Linked DNA regions of Homo sapiens: region 1 is linked to region 2. The links come from fine-mapping of genetic effects on plasma protein levels. Region 2 holds a variant in brackets. A gene starts in the other region. All regions are shown on their reverse strands.

What was found. A credible set is the group of variants that fine-mapping cannot tell apart. PIP is the chance, under the fine-mapping model, that this variant and not a neighbour inherited with it causes the effect. Protein levels are from antibody-based Olink assays in UK Biobank. Linkage for the fine-mapping came from a reference panel and not from the study's own genotypes, which makes the PIPs less certain.
Region 1: it holds the start of TREH, and the variant in region 2 is the best candidate, but not a certain one, in a credible set for the plasma level of the TREH protein (UK Biobank, PIP 0.71).

Annotation. Positions count from the first base shown.
Region 1 is chr11:118,673,606-118,686,181 of GRCh38, reverse strand. It overlaps TREH (trehalase), which reads left to right and starts at 6,532. Exons shown (of 15, transcript NM_007180.3): 1 at 6,532-6,643. The coding sequence starts at 6,555. RefSeq lists enhancers at 5,981-6,640, 6,641-7,302.
Region 2 is chr15:53,430,783-53,443,358 of GRCh38, reverse strand. No RefSeq gene overlaps it. Among named protein-coding and RNA genes, the nearest start is that of LINC02490, 320 kb to the right of the region's middle. The variant G/A (reference allele first, on the strand shown) is at 6,846.

The DNA.
Region 1 (12,576 bases), not on the chromosome of region 2:
ACCGGCCAGGCACGGTGGCTCATGCCTGTAATCCCAGCACTTTGGGAGGCCAAAGTGGGAGGACCACCTGAAGTCAGGAGTTCGAGACCAGCCTGGCCAACATGGTGAAACCCTGTCTGTACTAAAAATACAAAAATTAGCTGGGCGTGGTGGGGCATGCCTGTAATCCCAGCTACTGGGGAGGCTGAGGCAGGAGAATTGCTTGAATCCAGGAGGCAGAGGTTGCAGTGAGCCGAGATTGTGCCATTGCACTCCAGCCTGGGCGACAGAGTGAGACTCTCAAATTAAAAAAAAAAAAAAAGAACTAAATGGGGGTTTCTTGTTTCTGGCTTAGGGTGTAAGGAGTGTGGCAACTGTCACTCCATCTTAACAACAGTAAAAAGCTGAATAAACAACACCCGCAACTCTTCTTAGATCTGTCAGAGAATTAAGGTCACAGAGCAAATTAAGGTCACAGAGCTGCCTCCAAAACTGGAGACAGACAGGCAGATCCAGAGAGTCACAACTTACCAGAGTAGACACCTCCACACTGGGTTTCTTTTACCCAGTACTGGTTTGGTTTCAAGAAAAAACTAGAAGTCTTACTAAAAGGCAGAAAATACCACTTGAAGCGACAGAGCGAGTAACAGAACCAGACTCAACTATAGCGGGGATGTTGGAATTATCAGGCCGGAAATTTGAAACAACTATGATTAACATGCCAAGGGTGCTCATGGAAAAAGTAGACAACATGCAAGAACAGATAAGTAATTTAAGCAGAGGGATGAAAATTCTAAGAAAAAAACAAAGAAGAAGTACAATGAGGAGAAAAAAACACAAAGGAAGTGCCTTTGATCAGCTCTTTAGTAGACTGGACAAAGCTGAGGAAAGAATCCATGAACTTGAGGATATGTCAATAGAAACTTCCAAAACTCAAAAGCAAAGAGAGGCAAGACTGAAACAGACAGAACAGAATATCCAAAACTGTGGGACAATGACAAAAGTCATCACATATGCATTAATGGGAATACAGAGCAAGAAAGAGGGAACTGAAGATACATTTGAAACAATAATGAATGAGAATTTCCCCAAATTTGTATCAGACACCAAACCACAGATCCAGGAAGCTCAGAAAATACTAAGGAAGACAGATGCCCCCCAAAAAGAAGAAAAAATCAACACCTAGGCATATTATATTCAAATTGCAGAAATTCAAAGATAAAAAGTCTTGGAAGAGGGCAGAGGAGTAAAAAAAACCTTACCTATGGAGGACCAAGGATAAAAATAACACCAGACTTCTTAGAAACCATGCAAGGAAGAAGAGAGCCATGTGAGATATTTAAAGCATTGACAGAGAAGAAGACCCCACCAACCTATAATCCCTAGAATCTCTTTCCTGCAAAACCATCCTTCAAAAGTGATGGAGAGGCCAGCACAGTGGCTCATGCCTGTAATCCCAGCCCTTTGGGAGGCCGAGGCAGGCAGATGGCTTTGAGCTCAGGAGTTTGGGACCAGCCTAGGCAACATGGTGAAACCCCGTCTCTACAAAAAAAATACAAACTTTAGTGGTGGCACATGCCTGTGGTCCCAGCTACTTTGGGGGGCTGAGGCTGGAGGATCACTGGAACCTGAGAGGCGGAGATTGCAGTGAGCCGAGATAGCACCACTGCACTCCAGCCTGGGCAACAGAGCAAGAATCTGTCTTAAAAAAAAAAAAAAAAAAAGAAAAGAAAAGAAAGAAAAGAAAAAGAAAAAAAGGAAAAAAAAAGTGATGGAGAAATGAGAACTTTCACAAGCCAACAAAAATTGAGAGAATCTGTAGACCTGTCTTGCAAGAAGTATTTAAAAAAAAAAAAACTTCTTCAGAGAAAAGAAAGATGATATAAGTTAGAAACTTTGAACTACATAAACAAGGGAAGAGCTTTAGAGAAGGAATAAGTGAAGGTAAAATAAAAGCTTTTACTTTTCTTATCCTTAGTTAATCTAACAGATAATGGTTTGTTCAAAATAAAACAGGGCATTTATCCAAAATGCTTGATACCAGGAGAATTTTGGATTTTGGATTTTTTTTTTTTGAATTTTGAAATATTTGCAATATACTTACTGGTTCAAAATCCCAAATCTGATCATCCAAAATCTGAAATGCTTCAGTGAGCATTTCCTTTGATCATTATGTCTGTACTCAACAAGTTTTGGATTTTGGAGCATTTCAGATTTTGGGTTATCAGATTTGGGGTGCTCAATCTGTAATAGCAACTGTGTATTCAACGATTCTAGTTTATGGATAAGGGAACTGAATGACAGCAATGATAGAAGGGACAGGAGGGAGAAGTTAAGACTACTTTGTTATCATAAGGTACTTGCACTACCATGAAATGTAGTGTTATTTGAGTAGACTTGGTTAGTTGTAAACATATAATACTAAAAAAAGAACTGCTGGAGGCCGGGCGTGGTGGCTCATGCCGGTAATCCCAGAACTTTGGGAGGCTGAGGTGGGTGGATCATGAGGTCAGGAGTTCAAGAACAGCCTGGCCAATATGGTGAAACCCCATCTCTACTAAAAATACAAAAATTAGCCGGGTGTGGTGGTGGGCGCCTGTAGTCCCAGTTACTCAGGAGGCTGAGGCAGGAGAATCACTCGAATCCAGGAGGCGGAGGTTGCAGTGAGCCAAGATCATGCCATTGCACTCCAGCCTGGGTGATAGAGCAAGACTTCGTCTCAAAAAAAAAAAAAAAAAACACTACTGGCTGGGCATGGTGGCTCATACCTGTAATCCTAGCACTTTGAGAGGCCAAGGTGGGAGGATTGCTTGAGCCCAGGAGTTTGAGACCAGCCTGCGCAATATAATGAGGTGTTCCCCCAGAACAAAGCCAGTCTGCATAATGGGCAGAAGATCTGAATCACTATAAACCTTGCTTAAAAGAAGACATACAAGTCGCAAACAGGTATATGAAAAGGTGCGCTACATAACTGATCATCAGAGACATGCAAATCAGAACTACAATGAGATATTATCTCACTACGGTTAAAATGGCTTTTATCCAAAAGACAGGCAATAACAAATGCTGGTGAGGATGTGGAGAAAAGGAACCCTCATATACTGTTGGTGAGAATGTAAGTTAGTACAATCACTGTAGAGTCATGTGTTTTTTTAAAGAACATTGGCTGGGCACGTTGGCTCATGCCTGTAATCCTAGCACTTTGGGAGGCCAAGGCGGGTGGATCACCTGAGGCCAGGAGTTCGAGACCAGCCTGGCTAACACGGTGAAAACCCATCTCTACTAAAAATACAAAAAGTAGCTGGGTGTGGTGGTGGGCGCCTGTAATCCCAGCTATTCACGAGGCTGAGGCAGGAGAATCGCTTAAACCTAGGAGGCAGAGGTTGCAGTGAGCCAAGATCATGCCACTGCACTCCAGCCTGGGCAACACAGCGAGACTCCATCTCAAAAAAAAAAAAAAAGATGTTTAATTTTATGTGTCAACATGGCTAGGCAAAGGTATCCAGATAGTTGGTCAAGCATTATTCTAGATGTTTCTGTGAAGATATTTTTTAGATGAAAATAACATTTAAATTTGTAGACTTTGAGTAAAGCAGGTTACCCTCCCTAACTTGGATGGGCCTTATCCAATCAGTTGAAGACTTTAATTTGAAAAAGACTGACCTCCCCAGAAGAAGAAGGAATTCTCTCAGCATGCTGCCTTCAGACTTGAACTGCAGCTTCTTCCCTGTTTCTCCAGCCTGCCAGCCTACCCTAGAGATTTTGGACTTGCCAGCTACCTCTCAAACTCTCTCTCTCTACCCCCATCCCCCATATATGTATTGTTTCTGCCTAATACGGTCCAGGACCAGATGGCTTCATTGGTAAATTCTACCAAACATTTAAAGAATTAACAATCCTTCTCAAACACTTCCACAAATAGAAGAGGGGCATATTTCCTAACTCATGCTATGAGGCTAACATTACCCTGATATTAAAACCAGATAAAGACATCACAAGAGGGCTGGGCATGGTGGCTCACACTTGGGGAGAAACACTTTGGGAGGCCAAGGCGGGAGGATCACTTGAGGCCAGGAGTTCAAGACCAGCCTGGGCGACACAGTCAGATGTAGTCTCTACAAAAAAATTTAAAAATTACCCAGGCGTGGTGGCATGCACCTGTAGTCCTGGCTACTCAGAAGGTTGAGGCCAGATGACCACTTGAGCCCCAGGAAGTCGAGGTTGTGGTGAGCTGTGTTCATGCCACTGTATTCCAGCCTGCTGGGTGATGGAGCAAGACTATGTGTCCAAAAAAAAAAAAAAACAAAACAAAACAAGGAAAGAAAATTACAGTCAAATATGCTCTATACATATTGATGCAAAATTCCTCAAAAAAATACTCGCAAGCCAAAACCAACAGTTTATTAAAAGGATTAGACATCATGACCAAGTGAGATTTATCCAAAGAATGCAAGGGTGGTTGCACAGCATTGTGAATGTAATAAAAGGAAATTGAATTGTACACTTAAAAATTGTTGACCAGGCATGGTGGCTCACACCTGTAATCCCAATACATTGGGAGGATGAGGCAGGAGGATTGCTTGAGCTCAGGAGTTCCACACCAGCCTGGACAACATAGGGAGACCCAATCTCTAAAAAAAAAAAAATTATTTTTAATTTAAAAATTAGTTGGGCGTGGTGGCATGTGCCTGTGGTCCCAGCTGCTCAGGAGGCTGAGGTGGGAGAATCCCTTAAACCTGAGAGATCAAGGCTGCAGTGAGCTGTGATGGAGCCACTGCATGCCAGCCTGGGCAACAGAGCGAGACCCTGTCTCAAAAAACAAAGCAAACAAAAAAAACAATGCCAGCTGCCCACATTACTGGGTGGAGCTATCTGAACCTTTACTAGTTCAGAGTGGTGCCTGATTCATGAGTCATTTCTTTGCTTGAATAAATGGTTAAATTTAATTTGTCTAAGGTTTTTCTTTTTAATAGCAGTAAACACTGCTCAGGTGCCACAACTGACATCCTTAACTGCAAACCTAAGTCCTTCAGGAGAGGTCATGCCTATCATTAAACTCCATGTGCCTTGCCCACCCCCTGTCCCCTGTCCCTTCAGCTCACCTTCCATATGTTGAGGGGATGAGCCTCCTAAAGTAACCGAATCTGCTTTTTTTTTTTTTTTTTTTTTTTTGAGACAGAGACTTACTCTGTCGCCCAGGCTGGAGTGCAGTGGCATGATCTCGGCTCACTACAACCTCTGTCTCCCGAGTTCAAGCGATTCTCCCACCTCAGCCTCCTGAGGAGCTGGGATTACAGGTACCCGCCATCATGCCCAGCTAATTTTTGTATTTTTGTAGAGACGGGGTTTCACCATGTTGGCCAGGCTGGTCTTGAACTCCTGACCTCAGGTGATCCACCCGCCTCGGCCTCCCAAAGTGGTGGGATTACAGGCATGAGCCACTGCACCCAGCCTGAATCTGCTTCTTAAGCTCACAAACTTCTCTGCTGGTTCCACTTTGGGGAATTACAAGGAATTACATTCCTTGGCTTGGCAAAGACCATTTCCAGACTGGTGCCAACATGTTCCTCCAGTCTATCTCAAAACCCTTCCCTGCATGAACACCAAGTTCTCTGCAGCTAGGCTGAGGGGTTTGCTCTTCTCTTCACATGCTCTGCATACATTGTAGTGGTCTCCAGCCCATTTCCCTTGGCAAACTCCTATGCGGTCATCAAGACTCATTAGGACTGGCGCAGTGGCTCACGCCTGTAATCCCAGCACTTTGGGAGGCCAAGGCGAGCAGATCATGAGGTCAAGAGATTGAGACCATCCTGGCCAACACAGTGAAACCCCGTCTCTACTAAAAATACAAAAATTAGCTGGGCGTGGTGGCGGGCACCTGTAGTCCCAGCTATTCAGGATGCTGAGGCAGGAGAATTGCTTGAACCCGGGAGGCGGAGGTGGCAGTGAGCTGAGATCACGCCACTGCACTCCAGCCTAGCGACAGAGTGAGACTCAGTCTCAAAAAAAAAAAAAAAAAGACTCATTACAAATGACACACTATTGTGGGTCTCCCTTAGTCCTCCCCAGACAGAATGGTTCTACTGTCCTGTGCTTCCGCTGTATCTCTTGCAGATAACAGTGAGAGGCCCTGAATTTCACACCACACCAGGGACAGGATCTTGAGCCATTCCATTTGAAATGTTAAGGGAAATGGTAACTCTCTGAGGTTGGTGGTCTTGGGGCCACCCAAGGAACCTGGCATCCAGGTTACAGGTGTGTGGCCTCGACTGTGTCCCTGGCCTTTGGGTGCCCACTCCCCACCCCCACCACCATGCTCTGAGGGAAGGGCCTGAGCCATTGGCACCAGCTGAGACTGTGAAATAGAAGAGGCAAAGTAGAAGCAAGGGAGGTGGCCACTGTGCCCTGAGAGCAGGAGGGGCAAGCGGGCCACACACAGACCAAGCACACGTCCCCTCAGGTGGCCACGCCTCAAAGGCTGGACTTTGGCCGACTTGGACAGGCAGGTGAGCCAGGCTGTGCCCAGCAAGCCGAAGGTGCCTGGGCTTGCTCATTCAGTCACAGTCACAGCCACCATGCCAGGGAGGACCTGGGAGCTGTGCCTGCTACTGCTGCTGGGGCTGGGACTGGGGTCCCAGGAGGCCCTACCCCCACCCTGTGAGAGGTAGGGGTGTGGGGAAGGCAGCAGGGGAGGATGGCAATAAGAGGGAGGCTGGGATGAGATCTCAAGCTCTGGGGTCGGTACTTCAGAGGGAAAGGAAGAGATTATAAAGGAAGGAAAGAGTAGGGAAGAGAAGAAAATGAGAATTCCTATGTAGCAGGCTCTGTGCTGGGCACTGCACCTGCAGTCCGTTTTTTTTGTTGTTGTTGTTAGAGTCTTGCTCGGTCGTCCAGATGGAGTACAGTGGCACCATCTCCACTCACTGCAGCCTAGACCTCCCGGGTTCGAGAGATTCTCGTGCCTCAGCCTCCTGAGTAGCTGGAATCACAGGCATGCACCACCACGCCCAGCCTGTCATTGATTTTTACCAAAATTTTCCACCGTTGGAAGGGACATTAGGCTTGGCGACTGTGCTGGGAATACAAGCGTGAGCCACCGCCCCCTGTCGGGACCTGCAGTCCTGATACCAGACGCAGCTGCCAGAGCCTGGCCTGAGGTCCAAGAGCCTGCTGGCCAGAGCCCGCCCTCCCTTCCTCTCCTCCTCCAAGCTGCCCCTTGAACTGTGCAGGCCTCTTCTCAGGATTGTTCTAGCAAACTTTCTGCTCCAGCTTCCTAGTCTGGGTGTGAGAGGCAGCCTAAGGGCCTGAAGACAGCACTTGGGCTTGAGCCCTGACCCTCATATTCTCTCTGTGACCCAGGGCAGGTCAAGGCTCTTTCCTGAGCCTGAGTTTCCATCACCAGGGACAGAGATGAGTGACCCTGTCCTGTCTCCTGGACTCAGGCGATGTCCACCCTTCGTTCCACATGGATTTATGGAGCTGTGGCCACATCAGCCACTTTACCAGCTCCTGCAAGAACAATAATAATAGAAGAAAAACAGCTGGGCACGGTGGCTCATGCCTGTAATCCCAGCACTTTGGGAGGCCAAGGTGGGAGCTATCATCTGAGGTCAGGAGTTCGAGACCAGCCTGGCCAACATGGTGAAACCCCATCTCTATGAAAAATACAAAATTAGCCGGGCATGGTGGCGCACGCCTGTAATCCCAGCTACTCGGGAGGCTGAGGCAGGAGAGTCGCTTGAACTTGGGATGTGGAGGTTGCAGTGAGCCAAGATCATGCCATTGCACTCCAGTCGGGGCAACAAGAGCAAAACTCTATCTCAAATAATAATAATAATAATAATAGAAGCAAAACAGTAACAGAAGCACAGTTTGAAGTAGAGAGAAGTTAGGGCCCGCTGGTGTGGGTGAGCAGAGGGTGTGTTAGAGAGGATGGGGAGGGACGGTGTCTCTGAGGAGGTGATGTGTAAGCAGAATTGTGGCAGGAACCATTGCTGAGCTGATCTGGGAGAGGACAGTCCAGGCATGGAAAGGGCCATGCAGAGGCCCTGACGCACTGTTCAGGGATTGGGACGAAGGCCTGTGTGATTGGGGCAGAGTGGGAACAGGTCCGGGGAGAGCGGGGCTCCAGGCAACAAGGTTTGGGCTTGGGTTCCAGTGGTTAGACTAGAGACAGAGACAAGGGGTTCAATAGAGGGTGTGTGTTACAGGGAGAGTTGACAGTGCTTGCCCATGACAATTGTGGAATATAAAGGGGAAAAGTGTACCTGGGATAATTAATAGGTTTTGTCCTGAGCAATTGTAATGAGGACTTCAGAGAGGCTGGGTGGTCCAGTGCTTTGTCAAGCATTAGGCTGTTTGCCAAATGTAGGGGAAGATGACTTTACTGGTGTTCCCTAAGACCAACCTCAGGCCAGTGATTCACTAACACTTCCAAATGGTTATACCATGATTATGGTTTCATTTTTTTTCTTTTTTTGAGACAGAGTCTCGCTCTGTCGCCAGGTTGGAGTGCAGTGGTGCAATCTCGGCTCGCTGCAACCTCCACCTTCTGGGTTCAAGCGATTCTCCTGCCTCAGCCTCCCCAGTAGCTGGGACTACAGGCACCTGCCACCACGCCCAGCTAATTTTTGTATTTTTAGTAGAGACAGAGGTGTTGCCATGTTGGCAAGAATGGTCTCAATCTCTTGTCCTTGTGATCCGCCTGCCTCAGCCTCCCAAAGTGCTGGGATTACAGGCATGAACCACCGTGCCCAGCCTTGATTATGGTTTCTTACAGTGAAAAGATACATGTTAAAGCCATCAAAGGTGAAATATTCTAGGGCCAAGTCCAGGAGAAAATAATCTCAATCTTCCAGTTTTTCCTCTCCCAGTGGATTTATATGGACAGGACTTGATTTTTCCAGCAATAACATGTGACAGCACGCATGAAGTATTGCCAATCACAAAAGCTCACCTGAGTCTTGGTGTCCAGTGTTTTTATTGGAGGTCAGTGATGAAAGCGTGGACTACCTGTGTGGCTGACCTCAGTTACTCACTCTCCAGAGTTCAAACTGATACTGGGCGGCCAAAGGCCCCTGCCACAAATCACATTATTAGCATCAAATATCTGGCATGGCCCAAGGCCCCAGAAAAACAAAGACTTATCAGGCAGCATATTTTGGTAATTTAAATCTCATCTCTCAGGGCTGGTCACAGGCCAGAATTTTCTCTGAAATGTGCAGGGTTTGAACACAGCAGACCTGCTGAGTCAATCCTTTCATGTATAAGCCACTTCTTGTATAATGAGGAATTAGTTTCATTTTTGTCTTGGGTTCCTCCAAAGTAACCTCTAAGCTCCTTGGAATCTCCCAAGTGATAGGAATGTCTGTTATTAATAGTGGTCCCTGATTAGTGTTTTTTTGTTGTTGTTTTTTTCTTTCTTTTTTTTTTTGAGACAGCAATCTAGCTCTGTTGCCCAGGCTGGCAGTGCAGTGGTGAGCATTTTGGCTCAATGCAACCTCTGCCCCCAGGGTTCAAGTGATTCTCCTGCCTCAGCCTCCCAAGTAGCTGGGACTATAGGCACGCACCACCACGCCTGGCTAATTTTTGTATTTTTAGTAGAGACGGGGTTTCACCATGTTGGCCAGCTGGTCTTAAACTCCTGACCTCAAGCAATCCACCCACCTTGGCCTCCCAAAGTGCTGGGATTACAGGCATGAGTCACTGCACCTGGCCTGATTGCTTTTTGAGACAGGGTCTCACTCTGTCACCCAGGCTGGAGTGCAGTGGTGCAGTCATGGCTCACTGCAGCCTCAATCTCTCTGGGCTTAGGTGATCCTCCCACCTTGGCCTCCTGAATAGCTAGGACTAGGTGTGTGCCACCATGCCTGGCTAATTTTTGTATTTTTTGTAGAGATGGGGTTTTGCCATGTTTCCCAGGCTCTTGGTAGCTTTTGTTAATGAGGTGACTTATGGTGGGTCCCTAGACAGCTTCTGCTAACAAGACGACTCCACATGAAGGCAGGCCGTGCCAGAAAGGCCAAGCATGTGTGTAGAGGGTTGGGGTTTTGGTCCACATGATATCAGCCCAACTTCTCAACCTTCAGGGAGGAGAAGGGGCTGGAGATGGAGTTCAATTACATGATCAATGATTCAATCAATCATGCGTATGTCATGAAACCCCAATAAAAACTCTGGACTTCAAAGTCCTGGTAAGTAGGCTGGGCACAGTGGCTCATGCCTGTAATCCCAACACTTTGGGAGGCCGAGGTGGATGGATCACTTGAGGCCAGGCATTTGAGAGCAGCCTGGCCAACATGGTGAAACCCTGTCTCTACCAAAAATGCCAAAAATTAGCAGGGTGTGGTGGTGCATGCCTGTAATCCCAGCTATTGAGGAGGCTAAGACGTGAGAATCATTGACCTGGGAGGTGGAGGTTGCAGTGAGTTGAGATTGCACCACTGCACTCCAGCCTAGGTGACAGAGTGAGACCCTGTCTCAACAAACAAACAAATAAAACAAATAAATACCAAGTCCTGGTTGGTGAACACATTGATGAGCCAGGAGGGGAAACGTCCTGGTTCCATGGGGAAAGGACACAGAAGCTCTACATTCAGGGCCCCCCTAGACCTTGCCCCATGCACCCCTTCATTTGGCTGATCCTGGCTTGTATTCTTATAATAAAACTATAGCCCTAAGCATAACCGTAAGCTTTTCTGAGTCCTGTGAGTTGTTCTAGCAAATTATCAAATCTGAAAGGGTTATGGGAACCCCTACATTTGTAGCCACTTGGTAATAAGTGCAGGTGGCCTGGGGACCCCTGAACTTGTGGCTGGTGTCAGAAGTGAGGCCGTCTCACTCAGGACCGTGCCCTTAACCTGAGTGTGGATTCTGCACTAACTCCCGATGGTTAGTGCCAGGATTAAATTGCAGTATTGCAGTTGGTGTCAGAAAATGTGGATTTACTAGAATGACCCTGACTCACTGAAACATATGGGTTGGGAAAAGAAAAGTTGAAAGGGCAGGGGATGAGAAACCTTTCATTCTCGAGTGGATACAGGGTCACCCATGGTGTGAAGAGCAGTCATGCTGCAATCAGTTACTGGAGGTAAAAGTTACCAATGGAAATTAGAGGTGATTGATCACTAACTTTTGGGGAGTTGACTCATGTGCATAGGGAAATGTATACTAAGAAGAAGAAAAGCAAATATACAATCCCTATAGACTTTTATCTCTAATAGCCAAACTGAAAGTAAAAGATGGGCCATGCTTAGATTCTGGTCAGTGGAATTACAACCTCCAGTCCTGCACTGTGGTACCAAAAACACCTGCTGAAGTCCTGATGGGCACTGCAATGAGATTGAGAGAATATAAAAATGCAGCCAGGTGCAGTGGCTCACGCCTGTAATCCCAGCACTTTGGGAGGCAGAGGTGGGTGGATCATCTGAGATCAGGAGTTCAAGACCAGCCTGACCAACATGGAGAAACCCTGTCTCTACTAAAAATACAAAATTAGCCGGGTGTGGTGGTGCGCACCTGTAATCCCATCTACTCAGGAGGCTGAGGCAGGAGAATCACTTGAACCCAGGAGGTGGAGGTTGCAGTGAGCTGAGATCTCGCCATTGCACTCCAGCTTGGGCAACAAGAGCGAAACTCCATCTCAAAAACAAAACAAAACAAAACAAAAAAGTGGTATGCGCTTGAACAGGTTTTATGTGGAGTGGTTGCATCTCTTCTACCTGAATGTATTACAGGGATGGATATTGTATCTGACCAGGAAATATTTCCACTACCTAGTATTGTAAAACAGAAGGTATGGAAATCCACTCATCAAGCAATATTGATTAGACATTCCAAATGGGAACCAATAAGATTGCCCAAGTCCACAGAGATTGTTAGCCTTCTCTGGAGCATAGACTGGACTTTATAGCAAAAGTCTTAGAGCACCTCCTGGCACGAGTGCTGAGACTTTGGACTAGATAATTTCCATGTGAGAGGTAATTATTAGCTTGCTATCAGACATTATTTGAAATTGCCCCTATGACTGAAGGATGTAAGATAATCTTGAAACCTGAAATACCTATAATATCTTGGGGAAATGCTCACAGAGAGTGGGCAGGGCCCAGAAGAGTTCCATAATGAAATGGAAATGGCTGGATCAGGAACAAGCTCCTGGGGGAATGCAGTTACTCAGTGTATTCAAAAGCAGAGAGACTCTTTTCCCCTAGGACTGACTTTGGACCCACTCAAAGAGTTGTTAGATTCTATTGCCAATTGGACAGTGCCCTATTGACAGCTCTCGATTGACCAACAAAGCTGTTTGGCTTATGGATGGCAGTCCCAAGGTGAATGAACAGCCTATTGTTTGGAAGGTTGTTACTCTGATCAAAGAAGGCAAAAACAAATCAGCTCTGTGGGTTGAATTGCATACTGTTTAGGTTTTTACTAACTCTTGGACAGTGGCCAATGGCCTGGCCATATGGTCAGGCGGAAGGACAATGGGAACCTTGTCTATATGGAAATCACAACAGGAATTTTAGGAGTGCATTAAAGCAGGTTATGTTGATGTCCATCAGAAGGACCCCTTTCCAGGATCAAAAGGAACTGGGGCAACAA
Region 2 (12,576 bases):
ATAGTCTCCCATCTCAACACCTTTAACTTACATCCATGAAGTCCTTTTGCCATGTAACCTAGCACATTCACAGACTATGGGATGAGGATATGAATATCTTTCAGGGATCATTAGTCTGCCTACTACAGGGGCCACAAAATGTCCTGGTAGAAGAGAGAGTATAGCTGGAAGTGGCAGCAAAATTGACCACATCCTGGAATAACTGTGCTTCCAGGAGAGTTCTGATGCAGATTGGATGAAAGTGTCATGCAGATTTTAGATTCTCACTACCAATCAGTTAACAACAATGGCCTTCAAAAGTTATCAGGAGAGAACTGAGACAATAAGGATTCAAAGCTGCTAGTAGCCACTGGGAGGTCACATCAATCTCCTTAGAAAACAGTAAAAATGGGATTCATTTGTCTCATTTATTCATTCTTTTAACAAATCTTTATTTAGTCTATAGCTACGATGGCCTTGAGGACAAAAATAAGAGCAGTTAAAACACTTTGGCTAGTTGGGGAAAGAGGATAAGGCAGGAAAAAAGGATGGAGTCAGAAGTGATCTGGAGCCTGCTTAGGCTAATGACAGTGTATCTTTGAATCATCCCTTACATCTTGCCAGCCATTAAATCCCGTATTTATTCCTTGAGAAGTTCTTGCAAGTACATTAATTTCTCCTTGTTTTGCCCACTACCACATTAGTCCACATCCATCTATACTTTACGCCTTAAAAAAAAACAGAAAAATGTATTTCAGGAGAAAATGATGGGTTAGATTTAGTATATGCTAACCTTTAAAAAAGGCAGAATAAGGGATACAGGACTGAGCTGGTGAGTTAGAATTGAAAGTCATCCTTATAATGATAGTATTGAAACCCATGACAGGCTAAATACCCATATAGTGAGATTTTGGAGAAATAAGAGCTGATATTCAAGGACTGAGGGCCTAGATGAAGGAAAAGAATCGAAGAAATCGGGGAGAACCAGGAGAGAGAAACATGGGGGAATCAATTATTTATTGGGGAAAGTTTCATCAAAAGATTCAAATGAATGGTCTTCAGCATTAAGAGCCACAAAGAGAGGAGACAGAGACTGAAGGCCAGATGACTGGATTTAGCCAGAAGAAGGTCATTACAAACCTTGACGAAAATTGCTATGGCACATAATTAAGGATCATAGGCAATACAAAACTTTAGTTTTCTTGAAGATGGTGGCATTAGTTTCCCATAGTCCACACTCTTAAAGCTGTTCGTATGATAAAGCAAGTGGTTAGAAGCCATGGACCTTCCAGTCTAGGTGAGCTACAAGGAGAATTTTCAGCCTGTCTTCTCATTAGTCAAAAAGCCTAATAGCTTGAAGAGGAGACAAATTTTAAATATAAGAAAGAAGAAAACAAATGGAAGCATCTAGACCTAGGTTATGGTTTTAACTTGAGAGAGGAAATGTAGAAGGATATTTTGGCCATCGGTTTGTTGTGCAAACGAGCAGCAATGTTGATTCCAATATAATATTTAGCCTCTTAGGAAATCACTCATCATACCGTCCTTAGCACTGTGCTAGGAGGTTCAGGGGGATGAGTGTCATAATGGTGAAACTCAGAAACCTGGTTTTGCTCTGCTCAATTTGACATTTGGATCAAGAAATTTTACTTATAATCTGACATCTCCGGGTCAGAATGAGTTAAGTTCCTGGTCTCATTTGATGTTTCCCCCAATTTTTGCTTGTTAAAGAAGATGAGCATGAAAGAGATATTAAGGAAACTTTCTGAATCAAAAGTCCCATAACTGTCTTTGGCATCAGTGAGCAGGGCTGATGTGAAGCCTGCAGGGCTAGTACAAGGCAGAGGAGAACAGTCATATTAACTGAGAAGCCTGATTTCCGGGCAGATGAGACTTTGAATAAGAAAATCATGGTTCACTGGGTGGAAAGATGCACAGAAGCTCCCAGAAAAGATTTTGATACATTAGTAATGATAACCAGGCAGCTGGAAAGTGTGGTTTACACAGGTTGGCCTGCCCAAGTTGGATGATATCCTTGAATGGACAAACACTTAGGTGTTACCAGGATACAGATAGAGAACAGTACTGAGTGAATGGGGCATGAAAATGGCGTATTCCATCTTATAAAATATAAATCCACTCCAGAACACATTCCTTCCTACTTGAACACCAACCAGTCTGTAACAATGCAATGGGGAGGAGGGGAAAGCTTTAATTTTACAGGAGCAAGAGTTGCTTTCATACAATGGTGAAATCATAATTTTTGAAATGTAAATTGTTACTTTGGAAAAAAATTAATGTCCATACATACCTATTTCTTTCACCCATTCTCTTTCCCATCATCTTCAGCTTTCTCCATGATATCTGCCATAAGAAGCAGTACTGCATTGTGGTTAAGCACTTTTGCATGGTTTCAGAGTCCATCTTTTTTTTTCTTAAAAAAGGTTTTATCACATTGACACAAGTTACTCAAGCTCTGTAAGCCTAAGGTGATTCATCTATCAAATGACACTAATAATAGTGTCTCCTTCAAAAGTGGTTGTGAGGATTAAATTAAATAATGTAGGTAAAGTACTTAGCACAGGGCACAGAATACAATTGTTGTTCAATAAATAATAATAATAATTTTACTGGCTAATTATTTGTTATAATGAGAATCATTTATTAGCTAATATTACAATGCAATAGAAAGAAAATTGAACCAGAGAATGGGTGAATGTATGCTCTATTTTAAAATAAATCACTCCCCAAATCATAAAATCCCTAGAGGAAAACCTAGGCAATACCATTCAGGACATAGGCATGGGCAAAGATTTTATGACGAAATCACCAAAAGCAATTGCAACAAAAGCTAAAATTGACAAATGGGATCTAATTAAACTAAAGAGCTTCTGCACAGCAAAAGAAACTATCATCAGAGCTAACAGGCAACCTACAGAATGGGAGAAAATTTTTGCAGTCTACCCATCTGACAAAGGTCTAATATCCAGAATTTATAACCAACTTAAACAAATTACAAGAAAAAAACAACTCTGTCAAAAAGTGGGCAAAGGATATGAACAGACACTTTTCAAAAGAAGACATTTATGTGGCCAACAAATATATGAAAAATAGCTCAACATCACTGATCATTAGAGAAATGCAAACCAAAACCACAATGAGATACCATCTCATGCCAGTCAGAATGGTGATTATTAAAATGTCAAGAAACAACAGACACTGGTGAGGCTGTGGAGAAACAGGAACGCTTTTACACTGTTGGTGGGACTATAAATTAGTTCAACCATTGTGGAAGACAGTGTGGCTATTCCTCAAGGATCCAGAACCAGAAACACCACTTGATCCAGCAATCCCATTACTGGGTATATACCAAAATATAAGTCATTCTACTATAAAGATACATGCACACGTATGTTCATTGCAGCACTATTCACGATAGCAAAGACATGGAACCAACCCAATGCCCATCAATGATAGACTGGATAAAGAAAATGTAGTCCATATACACCATGGAATACTATGCAGGTACAAAAAGGAATGAGATCATGTCCTTTGTGGGGACACAGATGAATCTGGAAACCATCATCTTCAGCAAATTAACACAGGAACAGAAAACCAAACACTGCATGTTCTCACTCATAAGTGGGAGTTGAGCAATGAGAACACATGGACACAGGGAGGGCAACAACACATATGGCGACCTGTCATGGGGTCGGGGGGTGAGGGAAGAGACAGCATCAGGACAAATAGCTAATGCATGTGGGGCTTAAAACCTAGGTTATGGGTAGATAGGTGCAGCAAACCACCATGGCTCATGTATACCTATGTAACAAATCTACAGGTTCTGCACATGTATTCTGGAACTTAAAAAAAAAAAAAAGCATAGCAAAAATAAATAAATCACTTCTAACCTTTTGACTTCTGTCTTTGAAACAGGAATAACAGTATCTGTACTAACAGATTCTCCTAGACATTCTGTGAATGAATAGAATTATGAATATTTGGACTTTGTAAAAGATATGTAAGTATAAGATAGGGAAAATAAATAAAAAGTTACCACCACAGCTCTATTTCTGCTTTCACGACTTGCATAAAGGCAAGTAAATATGATATTTAGTTAGTTGAGACTTAATCCGGCTGCCATCATTTATCTAGTAGAAACATAATGGTTATTTTTCAGCTAGAGATTTTCAAACCAGTTGAATGTGTCTATCTTAAGTCAGTCTTTGGTTTTAAAAAAAGCCTTGAAGCTGCATTTTATTTAATTGACTATTGATAATATAATAAAGCTCAATGGATATTTTTAAAAACCTACTATGTACTATGCATAATCTAGAAGTAAATGTTAGATACGAACAGTTAGGACCCTTGAATTGTACCTCTTGTAATAATTTGCAGTGACATTGACCTTATAATATATGTGTTTCCATCGAGTCATCTATTAAAAGACTATTATGATACTTATCTACTATGCAAAGGAATTATAAATTGGTTTGAATGTTAAGCTTCACTCAGGAAAAACACTGTCTAAGCAAAAGCCTCACCATTGTGTCATTCCTGCATTTGGTGCCATGGTTAATAGATGCAAAGTACAAACCACTGAATTATGCATTTGCCAGTACAATTCTGCCCCAGAGCAAGGTACTGTTGGAAGCCAGCCTGGTGGAGCGCAGCAGAAAAAGTGCCTGGTTTTGAAAAACTGATGACAAGAAGACATGATAAGAGATGGCCAGCAGGTTTAGAGAGGCACACTCTGAGGCTGTGTCCACCAACACAGCCCCTGTCACTGGTCCGAGGCCAATATTGTAACCACATTGATTGATTGACTCAGAATGTTAAGCAAGAGTCTCACAGGAAATGGACACAGACAAGCCCCTTCATGGAAAGATGATTTGACCAAATGTAAGAAATCCACGTATGGGACAGAGCACAAGAGAGGGTTCAGCTTTGTTTACAAAAGTCTCTGCTACATGAATGGAAGTCCTGACACAATAAACAACATTGACACATCACTTCGCGGCTTATAAAGCCCTCACACATGCACACAGTCCCATCTCCCTCTTATTGGCCCAAAAGTTCATGGATTTTTGTATCTGTCTACATTCTGGCTCAGCAGAGGAAACAACCCCTTTTCTTCCTGGGCAGCAGGTTCATCTGGTTTTAAGTCAATATAAACTATATGAGCTGCCACCTTTCTTGCCAGCCTGAGCTGTCCAGGGTCATGGCCATCTGCTCTTGTTAGCAGACAAGGTCATAGTGTTCAGACACAGGCTATCCTAGGGCTGCATCCTTAGCACCTTCAATTTATCCATATGTCCTTTTTTGCCTGGGCTTTTTCTTATATGCCACAGGCCTATATAATTCAGCTCCCTAAAATCTTCAGAGTACCTGGGTTCCATTGTCCTTTCTATAGCCTCATAGAATCTGAGAGATGCAAGAGACCTCGGAAGTCATTTAGTCAAAATTTCTCTTCATATTAGGAATCCCCTCTGCAGCATTCCTGACTGCTAGTCATTCAGCCTCACTGTGAATGACCCCAGTAGAAAGGAGTTCACTGTTTTGCAAGGCAGCCCATTCTAGCAGATTACATTTTCCTAAATGACTACAATATTTTTCCATCCCACTTGCTCTTCTTACAATGTGACTTTGAGACTTTCTCATTGAGAGTAAAGCTTAGGGCTTCTCCACTTGTATCTTGACAGAGCTTAGGAAGCCTTTAACCAATGGAGTGCAGGAGAGTGATGCTGTGTATCTTCTGAAGCCAGCTCATAAAAAGACCACAGCGTCCAGCTGGCTCACTCTTTAGAATGTTTGTTCTAGGGAAGCCAGCCAGTGTGCTGTAAGGAAGCCCAAATTTACTACACAAAGAGAACATATGGAAGGGTCCACCTAGAGAAAAACTGGGGCTCCTAGCCAAGATCCAGCACCAGCTATAGATGTGCGAGTAAGGGATACTCCAGATGCTTCCAGCCCCCAGCCTGGGAGCTACCCTATCTGATACCAAGTGGAGCAGACATGAGCTATCCATGTGGATCCTTGTCTATTTAGTTCACGGGGCTTCATATCAAAAAGACCAGTGCTCCAGGATCTGAAGCCAAGGGTCCTCCACGTCATCAGGACCTGATTTAGATGATGAGATCCTGGACCTTAAGCTGATGGTTCAGGGGAATGAGACTTGAGGCCTTGAAGCGGGGGCATGAATATATTTAGCACATAGGAGGGATTTGAATTGCTGTGGCCAGAAGGTAAATTATAGCAGATTGTATTGTCTTGAATGCAACAACATCTCCTTTTCCATTTGCTCATCCTACAATGTGAAATAGAGGCTCCTCCCACTGAGAGGTGAGGTCTATGTTCTCTCCCCTTGAATCTGGGCAGCGGCTTGGGAATCAACTGATAAATTAAGGCAAAAGGGATGCTATGTGACTTCCAAGGCTAGACGTTTTTGGGATGCTTGCTGTACTCCAACAAAGCCTGCCATCATGTTGTGAAGAAGTCTGAATCACCAGGTGGAGAGAACACATGGAGAGGCCCCTACGGAGAGGAACTGAGGCCTCAGCCAATGTCTTGCATCAGCCACCAGATCTGTGAATACAGCAGCCTCCAGATGATTCAAGATGCCCCTGCTGATGCCACATGGTGCAGAGATAAGCTATCTACCTGAAGCTTAGTCCAAACTGTAATTTATGAACAAATACATGCTGTTAGTGTTTTAAGCCACTAATTTTCGGGGCAACTTGTTACGTGACATTAAATCACAAGAACAGAAATAAATTCCTGCATGAGAGATCAGAGCCCCCACAGTAGGAACAGAGCCCTATTGTATTAGAATAAAGACCTGTATTGGAGCAGAACCCTTCATTGTG[G/A]TAAAACTCTGTATGAGGGATAGAGCCCTGCATCAGGGGTTGGAGGTCGGTATTACAGGAGAACCCTGTAATGAGGACATAGCCTTATATGAAGGTAAAGCCCTGTATCAATAGACAGCAATGCAGAGCTCCAGTCAATTGTGTATTCCTGGTAGGTAGGCCTTGGACAGGGTGTATAAATGTCTCAGGATCTTAGGTGCTGAAAAACTGAGATCATAACCTTATTCATCTAGAGGAAAACACTGGATAATAGGTTAGCTCCTGCTCTAGACTTTATGATTCTGAACAGCCATTTATGCATCCAGATACTCATTGTGACTTGCCATTGTGATCAAAAGTGAGGTGTATTTCCAAACTGAAAGCCTTCACTCAGCAGGAGAAAAATCTTTATCATTTGCCTTTTTATATCTTCTAAATCACTCCCTCATTAATCCTCACCAATCCCTGTTCATATCTAGATCTTTCACTGCGGCTATTTCTGTTGGACCAGAGCAAATGTGATTCTTGCAGTACCTAAAAACAAATAGGGGGTTGTGTGTGTATTTTCCTGTCAAAATAAAGTACTGTCAAAGCACAAGATTTACACTTCTTTACAATTACTTTCTGGGCTGCCAAAAAGCACCCTAACTTTCCAGAATTCTTTTTTTTTTTTTTTTTTTTTTTTTTTTGAGACAGTGTCTTGCCCTGTCACCCAGGCTGGAGTGCAATGGCGTGATCTTGGCTCACTGCAACCTCCACCTCTGGGGCTCAAGCGATTCTCCTGCCTCAGCCTCCTGAGTAGCTGGGATTACAGGTGCAAGCCACCACACCCGGCTAATTTTTTTTTTTTTTTCTTTATAGAGATTGAGTTTTACCATGTTGGCCAGGCTGGTCTTGAGCTCCTGACCTCATGATCCGCCCGCCTCAGCCTCCCAAAGTGCTCGGATTACAGGCATGAGCCATCACGCCCAGCCCAGAATTCTTGCAAATAATATCCTTTGCCAGTAACAACCTTCTTCCAAGCACAAAGCAGTATTCTTAACAAACTAATTTTCCATCTGGAGATTTAAAGTGTGATGTTGTTTCACTTAAAATTTCTGATATGCAGTAGTATGAAGACAAGGGATTGGCTAAGTGGTTTGTCAAAAATGCAACAGAGAATCACCCCCTACATCCTCAAATATAGCCCAGTGATCTAAATTATGGAGCAAAACTATCAAATGTCATAGAAATACTGGACTCTAGAAAGTTCTTTCGCTGTTGTTCCTGAATAAGGGGTTTAGATAAAGATGCGGATTATCATATACTGAACTTACTTTTCGAATAAAAGAAATCCCACTTTCCTGGGCCACGTGGCTTCAGATTTACACATGAAGGTGGCACCCAGATTCCAGATGAAAAGGGGCTCTTGGAGCCTCCTCCTCCTCCCCTCGACCCAAATCTCCTTCATTTTCTCCCATTGTTTTGCACATCCTTAACCTTCTTCCCAAAGACAGATCTTTAAGATGCCTTTTTCCCCCCACTAAATTGATCATTTTGATGTCAGGTCATTTTGGAACCAGTGATTAGTGAATATGATAAATTACCGCTAGCAGGTTTGCTTTAGCAGGTTTGAAGTTTTGACGCATTAGTTATTTCCACCCAGGAAAATTATAACTCTGAACAACATCAACTTGTACATCTCCAGATAGAAAGCTGGTTTGTTAAGGATATTGTCCAGTGTTTGGAAATGTAGGTTCTTCGTACTGACAAGATCTAAAAGTCACCTGCTATCTTTTAAAATATTTTCAAATGTGTTCTCCTTAATCTGTCTTATTGAGCCCAGAGGTATTTCTTAGAGTTGAAATCAGGTTGATTTTACCAATTTTGTGTCTCATAAAAATTTCAAGACATAGGGACAGAAGAGTCTATCCTTTTGTTTGAGGTGTGTGTGTGACACAGGATTATTTCTTAGAGGTGTACTTTGGAATTGGCAGGTCGTCTGTCTCTTTGTCCTCATCTATTTTCCCTCCCTCTGAAAGGGTCTTTTAAACAATGGAGTTCACAAACTGCACCTAAAGCAAATGCCTAGATGTTTATATTCCTAGGTTGTGGTTTATACAAATTTTTTTAGTGTTTGTGATTATGGGTGTTGCTCTCTGAGATGTGAGGGGTTTGGGGTAGGCTTGTTTACATGAATTCCTCTCTGGGAATGCACACGGATTCACATTCGAAGCAGCAGGAGGATTTCCAGGGGAGAGAATTTCAGGACAGTGTACAGAATCAGAGCTGGGGGGTCGTGACCTTGCCTATTGATCCAGTCTCTCTAATTTCCACAGCTTGCTGAGGCTTGTTCTTCCAGCCTGCTGGTGTACATTAGAGCAGAAATCCATAACATGGCCATGTTCATCCAAGCACAGGAAGAAACTAAATTAAATGTTAAAAAACAATCTGAGGCTAGAGTTGGAGACAATTCATCATGATCCTAGATGCCAGGCAGGTGGGATGACCAAGGATTCCTCAGCCAATAGCCCCCCAAACAGAATATGGAAGGGCTTTGGTGCCTCATTTGTCAGGTACACAGCAGATAGTCTGAAAACACACCAAGGTCAGCTCTTTTGGCTGCAACATATTTTTCTCAAAAATGAGATATTACACACCCGAAAAGTGTAACTGAAGTAAATTAGCAGCAAGTATTGGGAGAAATAAATGGGATTCCTTATGAAAAGCTTATTTGGGGTAGTGTTTGGCAAATTCTCCAAGGCAGCAATGTTCCTGCTCTGGTCTCGGCATTTTTGTGCCACTGTATTATTCTGGGGCTGGTTGCTTAGATTTATATTGGAGGAGGGAGAACATTTTGCCAGAGTCATGACCTTTCTACTGGGTGACAGAGATTCAGGACAATAGCACCCCAAAATGAAATCCATGTGTTAAAACAAAAGGCACCAGACACTCTGACGTTCTAAAACATCTCTGGATATTCACCCAAAGTAGGCAGAGAAGGCAGCACTTCCTAAGGCGTGTTGGATGGTGCCAAAAGTGCCCTTTTCTGCTTCTTCAGTTGATCTCATTTATATTGAACATGGGGCTCATGCCATTTATTTGCCATTTACTTATTGATTAATCTAAAATGTTTAACCTGAAGAAGGCATCACAAATGGCAGGTTGTTCTGCTGGGAGTTGCCTCAAATGCTGGGATGCATTCCTCAAAATGCCTTTTGCATTATCCAGGTAAAATCTCATTCAAATGAGCAGGGCTGCAGCACAGGAGTGCCTCTTTTAGAGAAACTAGTGCCTGTATGGGTGGGGCCTGCACCAATGATGACTTCAAGGTTGATAGGATTGTATTAAACAATAGCAAATGCAAGGTAGCCCTAGAACAGATTCAGACAGCTCTGCACAGGTAGTACTCCACCAACCTGGAAAGGAAGAACAAAAAATGGTTCTGCAATTGGACTTCAGACTAAAGTTCTATTTGTATGCTAACATCTCACTCGGCTATAACAAGAGTCCTTTTTTGAGGGGAAGGCCACAGGGAGGAAGAGAAATAAAGAGATGCATGAACCTGTTAGTCAATTCAGATTAAACTATAATGTGAGAGCTGAAAGAAGCAGAGAGGAAACTGAGGCTCCAGGAAAACGAAGAACTCACCCTCAGACGCACTAGTCCAGACAGAACACGTCATTTTCTGTAGCTCAGTGGTACAGAGCATGTGCTGTGTATTCGAAAGTCTGTGTTTTGTGACCTGTCTCTATCACTTACTACCTGCATGGACCTCGGAAAAGTTAACTTAGCTGACTGTATTACAGTTTTTTCATCAGTAAACTGGGGATAATAATAGGATTCTAATAATGTTGTGAGAATTAAATGAGATAATGTATCCACAAATCTTCTATCAGAGCCTGGTACATGGTAAACACTCAACAGATAACGTTGTTATTCTGTGCTGCCTTTCCCTGTGAGAGCATCCAGCCCAGCATACCTTTTATTTATGTGTCCGTTTTAAGTAAACACAACCATACAGCAACGTATTCAGATCATAAGTGTATAGTGTGATAAATTTTCCCAAAGTGAAAAAAACCACATGGTCTCTGTCAGGCCTCTGAACCCAAGCCAAGCCATCGCATCCCCTGTGACTTGCATGTATACATCCAGATGGCCTGAAGTAACTGAAGATCCACAAAAGAAGTGAAAAGGCCCTGCCCTGCCTTAACTGATGACATTCCACCATTGTGATTTGTTCCTGCCCCACCTTAACTGAGGGATTAACCCTGTGAATTTCCTTCTCCTGGCTCAGAAGCTCCCCCACTGAGCACCTTGTGACCCCCGCCCCTGCCCACCAGAGAACAACCCCCTTTGACTGTAATTTTCCATTACCTTCCTAAATCCTATAAAACGGCCCCACCCTTATCTCCCTTTGCTGACTCTCTTTTCGGACTCAGCCCACCTGCACCCAGGTGAAATAAACAGCCATGTTGCTCACACAAAGCCTGTTTGGTGGTCTCTTCCCACGGATGCGCATGAAATTTGGTGCCGTGACTCGGATCGGGGGACCTCCCTTGGGAGATAAATCCCCTGTCCTCCTGCTCTTTGCTCCATGAGAAAGATCCACCTACGACCTCAGGTCCTCAGACCGACCAGCCCAAGAAACATCTCACCAATTTCAAATCCGGTAAGAGGCCTCTTTTTACTCTCTTCTCCAGCTTCCCTCACTATCCCTCAACCTGTTTCTCCTCTCAATCTTGGCGCCACACTTCAATCTCTCCCTTCTCTTAATTTCAATTCCTTTCATTTTCTGGTAGAGACAAAGGAGACACGTTTTATCCGTGGACCCAAAACTCCGGCGCCGGTCACGGACTGGGAAGGCAGCCTTCCCTTGGTGTTTAATCATTGCAGGGAAGCCTCTCTGATTATTCACCCATGTTTCAAAGGTGTCAGACCACGCAGGGACACCTGCCTTGGTCCTTCACCCTTAGCCGCAAGTCCCGCTTCTCTCCTTGTCTCTACCCCTTCTCTGCTTTTCTGGGGGAGGGGCAAGTACCCCTCAACCCCCTCTCCTTCACCCTTAGTGGCAAGTCCCGCTTTTCTAGGGAGCAAGAACGCCCAATCCCTTATTTCCACACCCCAACCTCTTATCTCTGTGCCCCAATTCCTTATTTCCATGCCCCAACCCTTTCTCTGCTTTTCTGGAGGGCAAGAAACCCCTACCCCTTCTCCGTGTCTCTACTCTTTTCTCTGGGCTTGCCTCCTTCACTATAGGCAAGCTTCCACCTTCCATTCCTCCTTCTTCTCCCATAGCCTGTGTTCTCAAAAACTTAAAACCTCTTCAATTCTCACCTGACCTAAAATCTAAGCGTCTTATTTTCTTCTGCAATGCCGCTCGACCCCAATACAAACTCAACAGTAGTTCCAAATAGCCGGAAAATGGCACTTTCAATTTTTCCATCCTACAAGATCTAAATAATTCTTGTCATAAAATGGGCAAATGGTCTGAGGTGCCTGACGTTCAGGCTTTCTTTTACACATCAGTCCCTTCCTAGTCTCTGTGCCCAGTGCAACTCGTCCCAAATCTTCCTTCTTTCCCTCCCGTCTGTCCCCTCAGTCCCAACCCCAAGCGTCGCTGAGTCTTTTTAATCTTCCTTTTCTACAGACCCATCTGACCTCTCCCTTCCTCGCCAGGCCAAGCTAGGTCCCAATTCTTCCTCAGCCTCCGCTCCTCCACCCTGTAATCTTTTTATCGCCTCCCCTCCTCACACCTGGTCTGGCTTACAGT